Homo sapiens: one gene and its partner. The protein of the gene in region 2 purifies or fractionates together with the protein of the main gene of each other region. This does not show direct contact. Each region holds a gene or a part of one and is shown on either strand. Other genes may lie near its edges.

Region 1 (7,389 bases), 170 kb from region 2:
AAAATGTTTCCTGAATCCAGCCATTTCTCACACCTCCATCAAGGCCACCAAAGTGCATGCCATTATCATCTTTCACCTGGCGCACTGCAACCCCTCCTAACCAGGCTCTAACTCTCCATTCTATCCCCTTTCTACGTTCAGTTTTCCAACAGCAGCCAGAGTGACCCTTTAGAAATATAAACCAGATCGCCCTCTCCCCTGGCTCAAAACTATCTGATGAATCCCCTAACATTTTAAGTTAAAAATCCAAAATCCTTACCTTCAGCCCCAAAGGCCTGTCTTCTGGGTACCTTCCCGAGTTCCTAGCACCTCTCTCCATTGCTCACTGCCCTCCCCACCACACTGGCTTCCTTAAAGCTTCTGGGCCTCAAAATGTCAGCTCTTGGGGACTTTGCACCTATGCTTCCCTCTAGGACACTTTCCGCCCAGAAATCCACTTGGCTAGAGATGTCACCTCACTTGAGGTTTTTCCAGACATCCTATTTTAAATGGTGGTTCTGTCACTGTCTGTCACTTATTCTTCTTCCTAGCAGGTATGACTGGCAGACATTTTATTATATATCTATTGTTTACTAATATTGTCTGTTTCTCTCTCTAGAAGGTGCCGTCCCTGGAAGCCGAGTCTGCCATGTTCCTGGCTGCCTCCCCAGCTCCTATAACAGTGCCTGGAACACAGTAGGCAGTGGATATCTATTGTTGAATGAATCTTGTCATCATTCAAGTTTCAGGCCAAACATCACCTCCTCAGTCAAGTTGTCTCTGATTTCTGGTTAGAAGTAGCACCAGGCCAGGTGCAGTAATTCATGACTGTAATCCCAGCACTTTGGGAGGCCAAGGCGGGCAGATCGCTTGAGCCCAGGAATTTGAGAACAGCCTGGGCAACATAGTGAGACTCTGTTTCTACAAAAAAAAAAAAAATTGGCTGGGTGTAGTGGCGCCTATAGTCCTAGCTACTCAGGAGACTGAGGTGAGAGGATCCCTTGAGCCCAGGAGGTCAACTCTGCAGTGAGCCATGATTGTGCCACTGTACTCCAGCCTGGGCGATAAAGTGAGACTCTGTCTTGGGGGGAAAAAAAGAAGTAACACCACCCCCATCTTCCCCTTGCTTGCCCTGGCGCTGTTTCTCTCCAAATAAATAAAATGGTTTTATTTATTTTGTTTACTTGCCTACTGTCTTTCTGTGCATGACCTGGCCCCCAGTATAAGCTGCCTGAGAGCAGGGGCCTTGTCTGTTATATTCATCTCTGTGTCCAGTGCCTAAAACAGTGCCTGGCTCCCATGTACGTGCCCAGCACATGGGTGTTGGATCAATAATACATGAGGCTGGTGACTGGAGAGGAGGCGCAGGCACAGCCAGCTCCTTCTTTCAATACTCACCTTTTGGAGACAGGAATCCACAGCATTAGGAATATGTCCTTCATGTTGATGCATATCACCAGACGGTGTTTCTGCTTGTGATTGTGTCAGTGAAGAAATTTGAGGTCTCGTGTTCTTCTTTATTGAATTTTCAGTGGGTACCAGGAAAATGGGCACAGGTTTTTCGTCAACAAGTATTTGGTGCTCTCCTTTTTTCAACACTCTCTCCTTAGCTTCAGTGGAGACATTAAACACACACATATACACACATAAAAATGGGAGAGATTTCAAGTAATCCTCTCATTCCTGTGTCTGTACTCTGCCCCAGCACCTCCCAGTAAGGCTGCTCCCTGCATCCTGGAATGGTGGGTTGGCGATGGAGAAAGTCGGGGAGCTATTAAGAGCTCTAAAGTGTGCGGATTAAGTTTTACTATAGAAGTGAAAGCTTAATGACAATGGAACATTGTCCACCGATTAAACATCATGTTTCTAAAACTGTCTCCAGTCTCCCCTTTCCTTCTTCCTTCTTTCCCTCCCTCCCTCCCTTCCTTCCTTCTTTTTTTTTTTTTTTTTTTTTTTAGACGGAGTCTCACTCTGTCACCCAGGCTGGAGTGCAATGGTAGGACCTCGTCTCACTGCAACCTCTCTGCCTCCCGAGTTCCAGCGATTCTCCTGCCTCAGCCTCCAGAGTAGCTTGGATTACAGGTGCGCACCACCATGCCCGGGTAATTTTTGTATTATTAGTAGAGACGGAATTTCCCCATGTTGGCCAGGCTGGTCTCGAACTCCTGGCCTCAGGTGATCCACCAACCTCGGCCTCCAAAGTGCTAGGATTACAGGCGTGAGCCACCGCACCCGGCCCAGTCTCCCATTTCAATACTCATTATACAGGTAAGTGACAACAGCAGGAATCAAAAGTGCAGACTCCGAATTTTGTAAATATACATGTGTTTGCTGGCATTCATAAAAAAAGGCAGGAAGGAAATACACCAAATGGTCACATTGTTTATCTTCAGGTTGTTTTCTTTTTTACTCTTTTATTTCTATAGTGAGCATATATCACTTTTGTAATCCTCAAAAACACAAAATGGAACATCCTTTTGTTCATGGATGGAACAATGGAACCATTATTTAAAACATAAAAGTGGAATCCCTGAATGACAAGGACAGCAGCTGGCAGGCATCTGGGGGAAGGAAGATGACAGCTGAGAAATTAAGTTAGAATGAGGATATGGAAAGCATCCACACTAAGGCGCCGTCAGCCAGACCCGCACCAGGCACATGTGAGGCCCCATCCTCCACCGAGTGTTCACTGTCTCAGTGAGTCTCTTGGCAGTAGGGCCCCGTCCCTGTCCGCCACCGCACAGTGACATACTTTCTCCCGCCCTCTCCCCTAGGTCAGCTGGAACTGGGTCCGCCTGGAAACCCGGGGGCCGGGCCCCCAGAGGGCTTTCGCAGCCTGGCCGCCCGAAGCTCACCTGCCCTTTCACTGAACTCCACCCGGAAGGTGCCCGGGGCTTCGTGTTCCTGGGTGCTGACCGTGCACTCCCCGCCGCCCGAGGACTTAGAGCTCTGGAAGTAGCTCTCCAGCTTCCTTCGTACTCGGGGGCCGGACTTGTACACCCGCACGAGGAGCGGGGACGGCGGGCGCAGGTGGGAGGCCATGGCTCTGCGCGTCGGGAGGGCGCGGGGGCTCCGGGAGGCAGCTGGGCGGTAAAGGCGCGGCCCGCCCTGCGGACTGGGCGCAAAGTTTCAGTTTCGCTTCCCTGGAGGTCCCTCCCTGTTCCCGGCAGAGCCGCTTCCCCCTCCTCCCTGTGCTGTCTGCACCGAGGAGAGCGGCCTGCCGGGTGAGTAGGTCCGGTGCCTCTGGGCCCTCGGGGTCCCCTCTCCTGCAGGCTCGAGGTGGGCGGGGAGAAGGGGGACGGGCGCGGACCCGGGTCCCAGGGCCAGGCCTCCCTTGTGAGTAGACTATGCAAAGAAAGTAAGTTTCTCCTGTGTTTCTTATTCTTTGTAACTCTTACTGCTGTTACCACTATTATTTGATCCTAAAAAGTAATTCACATTCTGAATCCATGTTAAACTTACCCATTTTTGAAAATTTGAATGTGTTCATCTGGTAATTGTGACCTGTTACCCCTTCCCTCCCTCCAACTCTACCCTTTAGACGGGCTTCTGCGGGCTTTTCTCCTCCATTGCTTGATTTAACCAACAGCACTGAATTGTTTCTTGCTGCCCAAAGAGCAGAGCAAGGCCCTGATGTCAAGGGCTGGTGAGGGGAGGCGGACCTGTGAACCAAGGAGCAAAACTTCTCCAAGGCCTCCAAGGGGAAGTTTCAAGCAGAATCTTAATAAATTGAGTGTGGCGGCGAGATGGGGAGGACAGGATTGGGGGGAAAAGCACCTGAGGCTTAGGGACCACTGTGGTCTGAAGCACAGAGTGGGCCTGGGGCCTGGGAGGAGAGGAGATGGGTGAGGGGATGAAGGAGGGAGAGCCTACCTAGATGGGCACTGTCCAGCAGAAATACAATGGGAGCCAGTAGGTTCATTCTAAAATTTTTGCAGCCATATTTTTTAAAGGATAAAGAAACAGATGAAATTAATTTTAATGATTTTTAGGAAATTTTTAAAGGATAAAGAAACAGATGAAATTAACTGTAATGATGTTATTTAGCTTGACATATCCAAAACTTAATCATTTCAGCATGTAATGAGATTTTTACATTCTTTTTATCATACCACGTCTTTGCAACCCAGTGTTTTTCTTATACTTACATCACATCTCGATTCAGACTGGCCACATGTAGCCTCAGTAGCTATGTGAGGCTGATAGTCCACCCTGGACAGGACATATTTAGATGGTGAAAAGCCTTGAAGAGCAGTGAAGATGACCTGAAGGGCTTTAAGCAGGGAAAGCAAGAAAATGACTTGCCAGATTTGCATTTTAGAAATATGGTGCTGACAACCGTGTGGAGGACACATTTACAAGCAGGGATGAGTGGCGGCAGAGAGGCCTGAGATAAGGTTTTTGCACATGGCTGGTAAGACTGGAAATGGGCCCGTCTTTACTGTGAACAATTTGGCAATACTGTCAGAATTACAACTGCATATACTTTTTGGTTCTGGAGTTCCATTTCTAGGAATTTGTCCCATTGATATATTAGCCCCTGTGTGAAGTGACCTGTGTACAAAGATGTTCTTTACAGCCTTGTTTACAATAGCAAAAGATAGGGAACTCTTTAATGCCCATAAATAGGGGGACTAGCAGTTTAATAATAATAGTATATCTATACAATGGAATACAATGGGCAGTAGGAAAAATGAAAAAGCTCTCTATGTGCTAACATGAAAAGATCTCTAGGATACATTATGTGGGAAAAATAAGATGCAGAAGTGTGTGTATAAGCTACTACCTTTCGTGTAAAAAATGCCACTGGAAGAATACAGGAGAAGCGCTGATTGACTCTGGACAGGGAATTTAGCAGCGGAGACAGGAGGAAACCTTTTACATTTTCTAAATTTGAACCATGTAAATGTAATACCTATTCAAACAATAAAATGTCAAACTAGGTACATTTAAATCTTTGAAAAGAGTATATTGATGGCTGGGCGCGGTGGCTCACGCCTGTAATCCCAGCACTTTGGGAGGCCAAGGCAGGCGGATCATGAGGTCAGGAGATCGAGACCATCCTGGCTAACATGGTGAAACCCCGTCTCTACTAAAAAAAATACAAAAAAAAAAAAAATTAGCCAGGCGTGGTGGTGGGCGCCTGTAGTCCCAGCTACTAGGGAGGCTGAGGCAGCAGAATGGCGTGAACCCGGGAGGCGGAGCTTCCAATGAGCCAAGATCGCGCCACAGCCTGGGCGACAGAGTAAGACTCCGTCTCAAAAAGAAAAGAAAAGAAAAGAAAAGAAAAGAAAAGAAAAGAAAAGAAAAGAGTATATTGCCACAGCTCAGGCAAAAGTTGCTGAGACTCTGAAGTGAGGCAGTGTCAGTGGGCGAGGAAGGAAGGGGCATATTTGAAAGTGATTTAGTTTGTCAGGTCCCAGATATGAGACAAAAAAGACTCAGGGAAAGTTCCTAGATTTCTGATTTGAGTACGTAAATGGTATTATCATTTACTGAGCTGTAGAATCCAGGAGATAAAGTATGGATTTGGTGGGGGTGGGATGGAGGATTGGGGACCAGGAGATAAGAGGTCTACTTTTGCAGAGGCTAATTTGAGGGGACTGTGAGACCTCCAGGTGGAGTTGAAAAATGGGGCTCAGGAGAGCCATGGCCTAGAACTGCAGATATAAGAGTCATATTTGCAATTGGTGAGTTGAAGCCATGGAAATGGATGAGATCACTCCTGGGGAGTATGCAGAATGAGATGAAAAACGCCTTAGACAGAATCCTGGGGCAAACAATTAAGAGGGAGATGGTGGAAGTGAACGCAGGGAAAAGGCCTGTAAAGGCAAAGTGAAGGGTAATAGAAGAACCAAGGGAAGATGGCATAGGAGAAGCCAGGAAAGCAGAATTTCAGGAATCAAAGAGTGAAATACTATAGAAAGTGGTCCAGTAAAGATGGATAGAAGATAATCCATTGGCATTAACCACATGAGGGATTCTGATGAGCAGTTTCTCTTCTTTTTTTTGAGACAGGGTCTCATTCCTCTTGCCCAGGCTGGAGTGCAGTGGCACAATCACAGCTCACTACAGCCTGAACTTCCCACCAAGTGATCCTCCCATCTCAGCCTCCCAAGTAGCTGGGACTATAGGCATGCACCAACATGGCCAGCTAACTTTTTGTATTTTTAGTAGAGATGAGGTCTTGCCATGTTGCCCAGGTTGGTCTCGAACTCCTGAGCTCAAGCAATCTGCCTGCCTCTGCCTCCCAAAGTGCTGTGGTTACAGGTGTGAGCCGCCATGCCTGGCCACTGGCAGTTTCAAAAGGGTGCTGGGAATGAGGCAGGGAGCCAGGTTATAGTAGGCTGAGTGGGCAGGTGGACAGAAGGAGAGTCCACTACTCATTCCAGAAGTTTGGCTGCTTATGAAGAGAAGGAAACACAGTAGGAACCAGTGATGGAAAGTTGGGAAGGCTTTTCTGTTTTTAAAATGGAAGAAATGGAATGCTTAGGGCACTATGCTCCTTGTTTGGCTATCCATAGGCCTGTAAAACTTGGCCTGAAGACAGAAACAGGTGCAACATTTAAAGCAAAAGCCCATGGCCAAAGCAGATGAAGTCATCCTTCTTTTTTGAAAACAGCAGTGCCCTCTGGAGGCAAAAAATGCATCTTGTCTTTGCATTTTAGAATGCAAAGGATTGTACTAGACCTGCTGCTTTCCCTTGATGAGTAAGAATAGTGCTCTGATGCTGTAGATGGTTGTACAAAATGTTTCTATTGCAAAGACATTAGAAATCATTTCGACCAGGCGCGGTCGCTCACGCCTGTAATCCCAGCACTTTGGGAGGCCGAGACGGGTAGATCACGAGGTCAGGAGATTGAGACCGTGCTGGCTAACACGGTGAAGCCTCATCTCTACTAAAAATACAAAAAATTAGCTGGGCGTGGTGGCGGGCGCCTGTAGTCCCAGCTACTCAGGAGGCTGAGGCAGGAGAATGGCGTGAACCCAGGAGGCGGAGCTTGCAGTGAGCCAAGATCGAGCCACTGCATTCCTGGGGGACAGAGTGAGACTCCAACTCAAAAAACAAAAAAACAAACAAAAAAACAAACAAAGAAATCATTTCGAGGCCTAAATATAGCAACAAGTGTGGGCAACTGTATCTTTAAGCATTTTCATCATCAGTCTTCTAAAAATTCATAATCTTTAATTCCTACCTATTAGATGGAAAATCATAACAAAGTATTTTTCCCAGATTTTCTGACTTTTAACCAGATATACCCCTATCATTAGGTCAAGGATGTTTATCACAAATTCAATAATACACCCCCCTCACAGGCTCTAGTGGCATTTCCTCTTTCTTCAAACGCTCTCCAGGGGGCTTCACTCACTCATAAGCTCGGTCTTCTTTACTGTTCTTTGAATGCTGTT
Region 2 (5,637 bases):
TTGTGTTCATGTCAATGCAGTTGCAAATTATATTTAATTTTTTTATGCAATAAAGGGCCCACAATGGCAAAAGTGCCTGAGGCCCATGAACATTTTAAGGTGGCTCTGGGTGTTAGAGATATCAGAATTATTTGAGGTGCTTGCCCAAAATGCAGATTCTTGGGAACCACTTTAGTGCTATAGAATCTGACTCCTTTGGGATGAGGCCAGAGCTTGGAGTTTCAGCAAACACCTCAGGTGATCCAAATACCAAAAAAGAGAATTTCTGACCCTAGAGTAAACGATCAAGACCTATCACAGGTGCAAAGTGGACTTGTTTCAGCCGGGGCTACTTGCTGGGGTCAATAAGCCCTTCAGATTCACTGAACTATGGCTGTATCGTGCCCCTTCCTGTAATTTTCAACCAAATATTAATACACTGAGCATCCCTTCATGCTGTCATACTTAGTTGTTTTTTAATTATTATTATCAGCAGTGGTCTGTGTTTATCATTAAGCCCCCCTGTATTTGCCCTTTAGGATAAAAATGTTTACCATTAAATGACAGTTTTCAAGTATTTTATTTGAAAAGTAGCAAAATGACAGTTGACATATTTAGATTGAGGATAACTATAACATTACTGAATGGATTATTATTCTTCAGTGCGATACACTCTGATATTCAGCCTTGCCCTGAGTTAATCAAATCACTGGAGAACAAAAGCGAATAACAGCAGGTCTCTCTTTTTTATTCCAATTTCTTACATTTATTGTCAATGATGAATTCAGATGCCAGTGGCCTGCCTAGAAAGCCACTCTTAAGCAACAAGGAGTCTGCCAATCCACTTAAAAAACAAACCACAAGAGAAAAAAATCCAAAACCTCTATGTTAATGAAGCAGCAACTGTGGCCCCCTAGCCTCCTCCACTTCAAGTACAGGTGTTCCTAGCAGATTAAGTCCCTTAATCCTCCCAGCGACCCCTAGCATCTGATGTGCTATCTGCATTGGCTCCGTGTCAGTATCAGCTCTGGCCTTGGCCTACAGAGCTTCCAATGAAGAGACTGTAATAGAAGAAGCCAGAAGGAAAAAACAAACAAGGCAACATGGGGGTATTTCAAGACTGTCGGAGGTGTTCCTGAATCGGTGGCATTAATCTAGAGGCCATGTTCTGCAGTGGGAGAGCAATGGGCTTGACATCACAGGGACCAAGATTCAGTTGCCGGCTCTGAGGGTTCCTTTCTAGGTGATCTCAGGCAAGGAAGCTTCTTGCACTCTGAGCATGTTTCCTCAAGTTTCAAATGCAGAGATAATTCTGACCTCACAGGAATTGAGACAATGTGTATGAAAGCACCTATTTTACTACCTGGCACACAATGTAGGTGCTCAATAGATGGTGTTTGAATCTTAAACTTACCTGGGGAAATTTTTAAAACTTCACCATTCAATAGATAGGAGTTAGCAAATTAGCAATATGACTGCTTACTTCCTTTGGTTTATTTATACATAAGGCTTTAAAATCATCAAACGCTAGGCTGTCAAGGAAAATATACTATTTAATAATCTTAGAGTTCATTTAATCTCAGCACAGGGGAAGGGTTTCACAATGAAGATGTGTAGCAGGCGTTATCCCATTGTTATCACTGGGCAGAACAAAGACCAATGAGTAGACACTATAAGAAGGCACATTGGCTGGTCACGGTGGCTCACACCTGTAATCCCAGCAGTTTGGGAGGCTGAGGTGGGAGTTCGAGACCAGCCTGTCGAACATGGAGAAACCTCGTCTCTACTAAAAATACAAAATTAGCTGGGTGTGTTAGCGCATGCCTGTAATCCCAGCTACTCGGGAGGCTGAGGCAGGAGAATCACTTGAACCTGGGAGGCAGTGGCTGCAGTGAGCTGAGATCGCGCCATTGCACTCCAGCCTGGGCAACAAGAGTGAAACTCCATCTCAAAAAAAAAAAAAAAAAGGCACATTTTGGTTCAGCATTAAAAAGAGCCTTCTGGCAATTGGAGCCAGGGTTGTGCTGCGCAACTCCATGGGGCAGGCAGGATTCCCCTAGACCACAGCCACATCACAGCTCCTGGACCGTGCAGAGCGCAAGTACACTGCAGTCCCAGAGCCCTGGCCAGAGCTGTCCCACATGTCACTGGCTAGTTTGTGAAGAATGAAGTTCCGTCATGGAATCTGTTCAATTTGAGGTAAAGTGATAGTGAGTCAAGAATGTTAAAGAGATAGTTCCTACTTTGGATGGGAGTCTGACTAGGCTTTTTTTCATTCTTCGTTGGTTTGTCAAACATTTATGGAGTATCCGTTGTACATCAGGCACAGACCTCATCTCAAGGGAAAAAAATTGACTAAGATACCATCCCTGCTCCCAGGGAAGACAGAAGCCCTACCCACTGGGTAATACTGTGCTCCCCACAGCACTATGGCATCCTGACATGGGGCCTGTCTCCTGCAGTGGCAGCTGTGCTTAGCTGTGCCCTCTGTCTATAAGACTGTTATTCTCTCCTTCCTGAAAATACAAACCTGTTCTTTTCCCACAGATTTGATGTCCATACTTGTGGACACACAGTTGCAACTGCATTATCTCATTTAAATTTTCCAAGTTATTTGCTCTCAAGATAATAAGTTCATTTCCATTATGAAAGGGAAGCTGAAGAAAGACTGACTTCAGCGACAAAGAATGATCCTTGGATATTAGAAAAATCTGTTAAGAGGAATTAAAAAAAAAAGCTAAAACTTGTTTTACAACTAGATATGTACAAATGGAGAATAATTTTGTGGGAAGGATACCAAAGTGTTATTTTCTAAACGTAATAAGGTACTCTGGGTATGCTTGGTAGTCATAAAATGCCACAAATAAACTTGGATGGTGCACATTATCTGTGACAGTGTCATACAGGTCAGTAGGATTTTGAGGGTTCTTTGAAGGAGGCACAATTAATGAATGATTTCCATGTGTATAGATTCCAGTAAGTACTCGCACATAATACACATGCTTTCTCCCATTTGCATCTGGTCTGGAGTACGTATCATTGGCAGAATAATTGGCATTGACAGCAAAATAGGTTCCCTTTCCATATGCCACAGCTGTGAAAAGAAAAACCATTTTTAAGCATTTCAAGTTAATGTAAAATTTGATATGTTGGCCCAATCTGTTAAATAATGTTCTTTCTAAAGCCTCTCTTAAAATTTTTTGTGTGTGCTTTTCACTTTTAATCATCAATTTTTCTACCTAGAAGGGCCAGTCAATCCCCTTTGGGATGAAATACAGTGAGTCCTACCCTGAAACTCGGGCTGCAACATGGCCACCAATGATGGGGGACCACAATGAATCCACACTGTCCCAGCCAACTCGGGCTCTCATGGCTGATGCCTCATTCCAAGCAGCCAGATTACTCGCTTCCTTACCATTCTTTCCGGCATAGCTGCGGTTAAAGCCATTTCGATTGACGTGTGGCACGGAGCCGGCATCTGTCCCATGGAAGAGTTGCTTCTCATTCATTGTCTGGCCATTCTTGGCATCCATAGTTTTTTTCTTTGCCTGGTAGCTATTCCAGAGATCTGGATTCTGGATCCTCTCAATCTGCAAATTAATAAAGGATAATATTCTGCCAGTTCCAAGAGCACTTGCCAATATACAGCAAATGAAACATGATCACTATGTTTCATAAATAAAAGCACACTAAACAGCAAATCCAATGCCAGACGGCAGCTTTCTGCATTCAGAAACCTTTTTAGATCCAGTGTTTCATAAAAACAGGCAATGGGAAGAATGTTGGTTTAATTTTTAACATCTTTTATGTACCGCATGAGATCAAACAAGGTTTAGGATTTTAAGTACTCATGACATGAATTCTGCTGACCCAGCCTCTGCAACTTCTGCTTTTTACACATACTCTAATGACTGCTCCTGTTGCTGTCCACCTCACTTTGCACTTTGCCTCTCACCACCTCAGTCCTTCTGGGATACTGGTTGACCTAGTTGTGTACTAACAGTAAGAGAAGCAACAGAATATCTAGGCAAGAATGAAATTAACTAATGAAAATTAATCTCTGGTCCAGTTGGAAGACCGGTGCATGAATCTTGAATGTTGTAGACCAAAGTGGCCATGCTTTGACCATACTCTTTAGGCAGTGGCCTCCAGGGCGGTGGTGGAAACTGCTTGGGTCCTGGGTTGCAGTTCTACTTCTAAACTCCCCTAGTCCCCAAGTAGTAGCAGTTTCATAAGGCTGTCCTGGGAAGACCGAGGGGTGGGTAAAGGTGACCAAAGTCCCTCATGGAAATGCACAAGGTAAAGGTTCCCTGTTGTCCATGTTGTCAGAATGTTTTCCGTTTTGGAGAACTCTCAGGCTTAACACCATTACCTGCCATCATCTGGTTCTTTTTTTTTTTTTTTCCAGTTTTGGGTTTTCTCTTTTTAATTAAGATACAATTCGCACTCTAATTCAAAGTCTCGGCATTAACATATATTTTGTTGATCTGGTTGATGATTTTAAAATTATTTTTCCTTTGTATTCTTTACCTACGGCTAAATTTCTAATCTTCAAAATGCCTACATTCATTTCATTTACCTTACATTTTATCTTACTCATTTTTAAAGCCTTCAACATTTTTTGAGTTTTGAAATAATTCTCAATTTCTTAGTCTCTTAATTCTTAAATTTAAAAAGGTTGTTTCTTACCTTTTAAAATTTTTAAAAATAATTATGTCAAGTAATTTTTGAATATAGTAACCTGATTCTACATTTCTCATGGGATAAATTCTAAGGTAAAAAAAATTGCAAATAAATCTTAAACTTTATTTAGTAGGTTTATTATTAGCAGCAGATGTCTAGCCAGGGTAGATTACTTTTATCAGACCAACCTCTCACCAACAACTACTAGAAGAGCTAGAGAGGGAGAAAAGTCTATTTGAAGACATCAAGGATTTGATGAGCTAAGATTGCAGAGAGAAGGGAAGTATGGTGAAACAGTAAAATCAGAAGACAATAATTTCTTCAAAGTGCTGAAAGAAAATAATTGCCATCCAAACTTCTATGCCCAGCAAAAATATCCTTCAAAGAATGAAAGAGAAAGAGACGTTTTCAGATAAATAAAAACTGAGAGAATTCATCACTACCAGATCTGCATTGGAAGAAATACTAAATCTAGATGAAAAATTATCCCACATGGAAGCATGGAAATATAGGAAGAATTGAAGGACACTGGAAATAAATGGTAAATATGTTGGTACATATAAATAAATATAAACAAATTAAAAATGTTTCATCGGGTTTCAAATATAAATAGAATTAAAATGTGTGTTAAAAGCAACACAAAAAGCAGAAGAGAGATAAATAAGGCTTAAAGTATTCAAAGGTCTTTGCATTGTCTGGGGAATGATGAATATACTAATTTACATTACAGTTCAATAAGTCAAGGATGCATGTTATAATCTCTAGGGTAAGCAATGAAAGAATTAGAATGTATAACTAACAACATAATAGGGGTGAAAATGAAATAGAAATAATGCAAAAGAAACCAGGAAAAGATAAAAAAGAACAAAGAATAGATATGATAAATAGAAAACAGAGATTAATATGGTACATTTAAACCCAAACATATCAGTAAGTACAGTAAGTAAGATTAAGTACTCTAGTTAAAAGATAAAA

Evidence for each region.
Region 1: the proteins of PARP14 (region 2) and DTX3L purify together in Homo sapiens (affinity purification with western blotting; 2 studies listed by BioGRID). This does not show direct contact.

What each region holds. Positions count from the first base shown.
Region 1 is NC_000003.12:122,560,059-122,567,447, reverse strand, and holds the start of DTX3L (E3 ubiquitin-protein ligase DTX3L), read right to left. Parts: upstream 3,111-7,389; 5' UTR 3,022-3,110; coding exon 2,835-3,021; exon of another isoform or gene 2,664-2,834; intron 1,590-2,663; coding exon 1,378-1,589; intron 1-1,377.
Region 2 is NC_000003.12:122,725,744-122,731,380, reverse strand, and holds the end of PARP14 (protein mono-ADP-ribosyltransferase PARP14), read right to left. Parts: intron 3,570-5,637; coding exon 3,395-3,569; intron 3,074-3,394; coding exon 2,784-3,073; 3' UTR 541-2,783; downstream 1-540. UniProt on the Homo sapiens protein: ADP-ribosyltransferase that mediates mono-ADP-ribosylation of glutamate residues on target proteins. In contrast to PARP1 and PARP2, it is not able to mediate poly-ADP-ribosylation.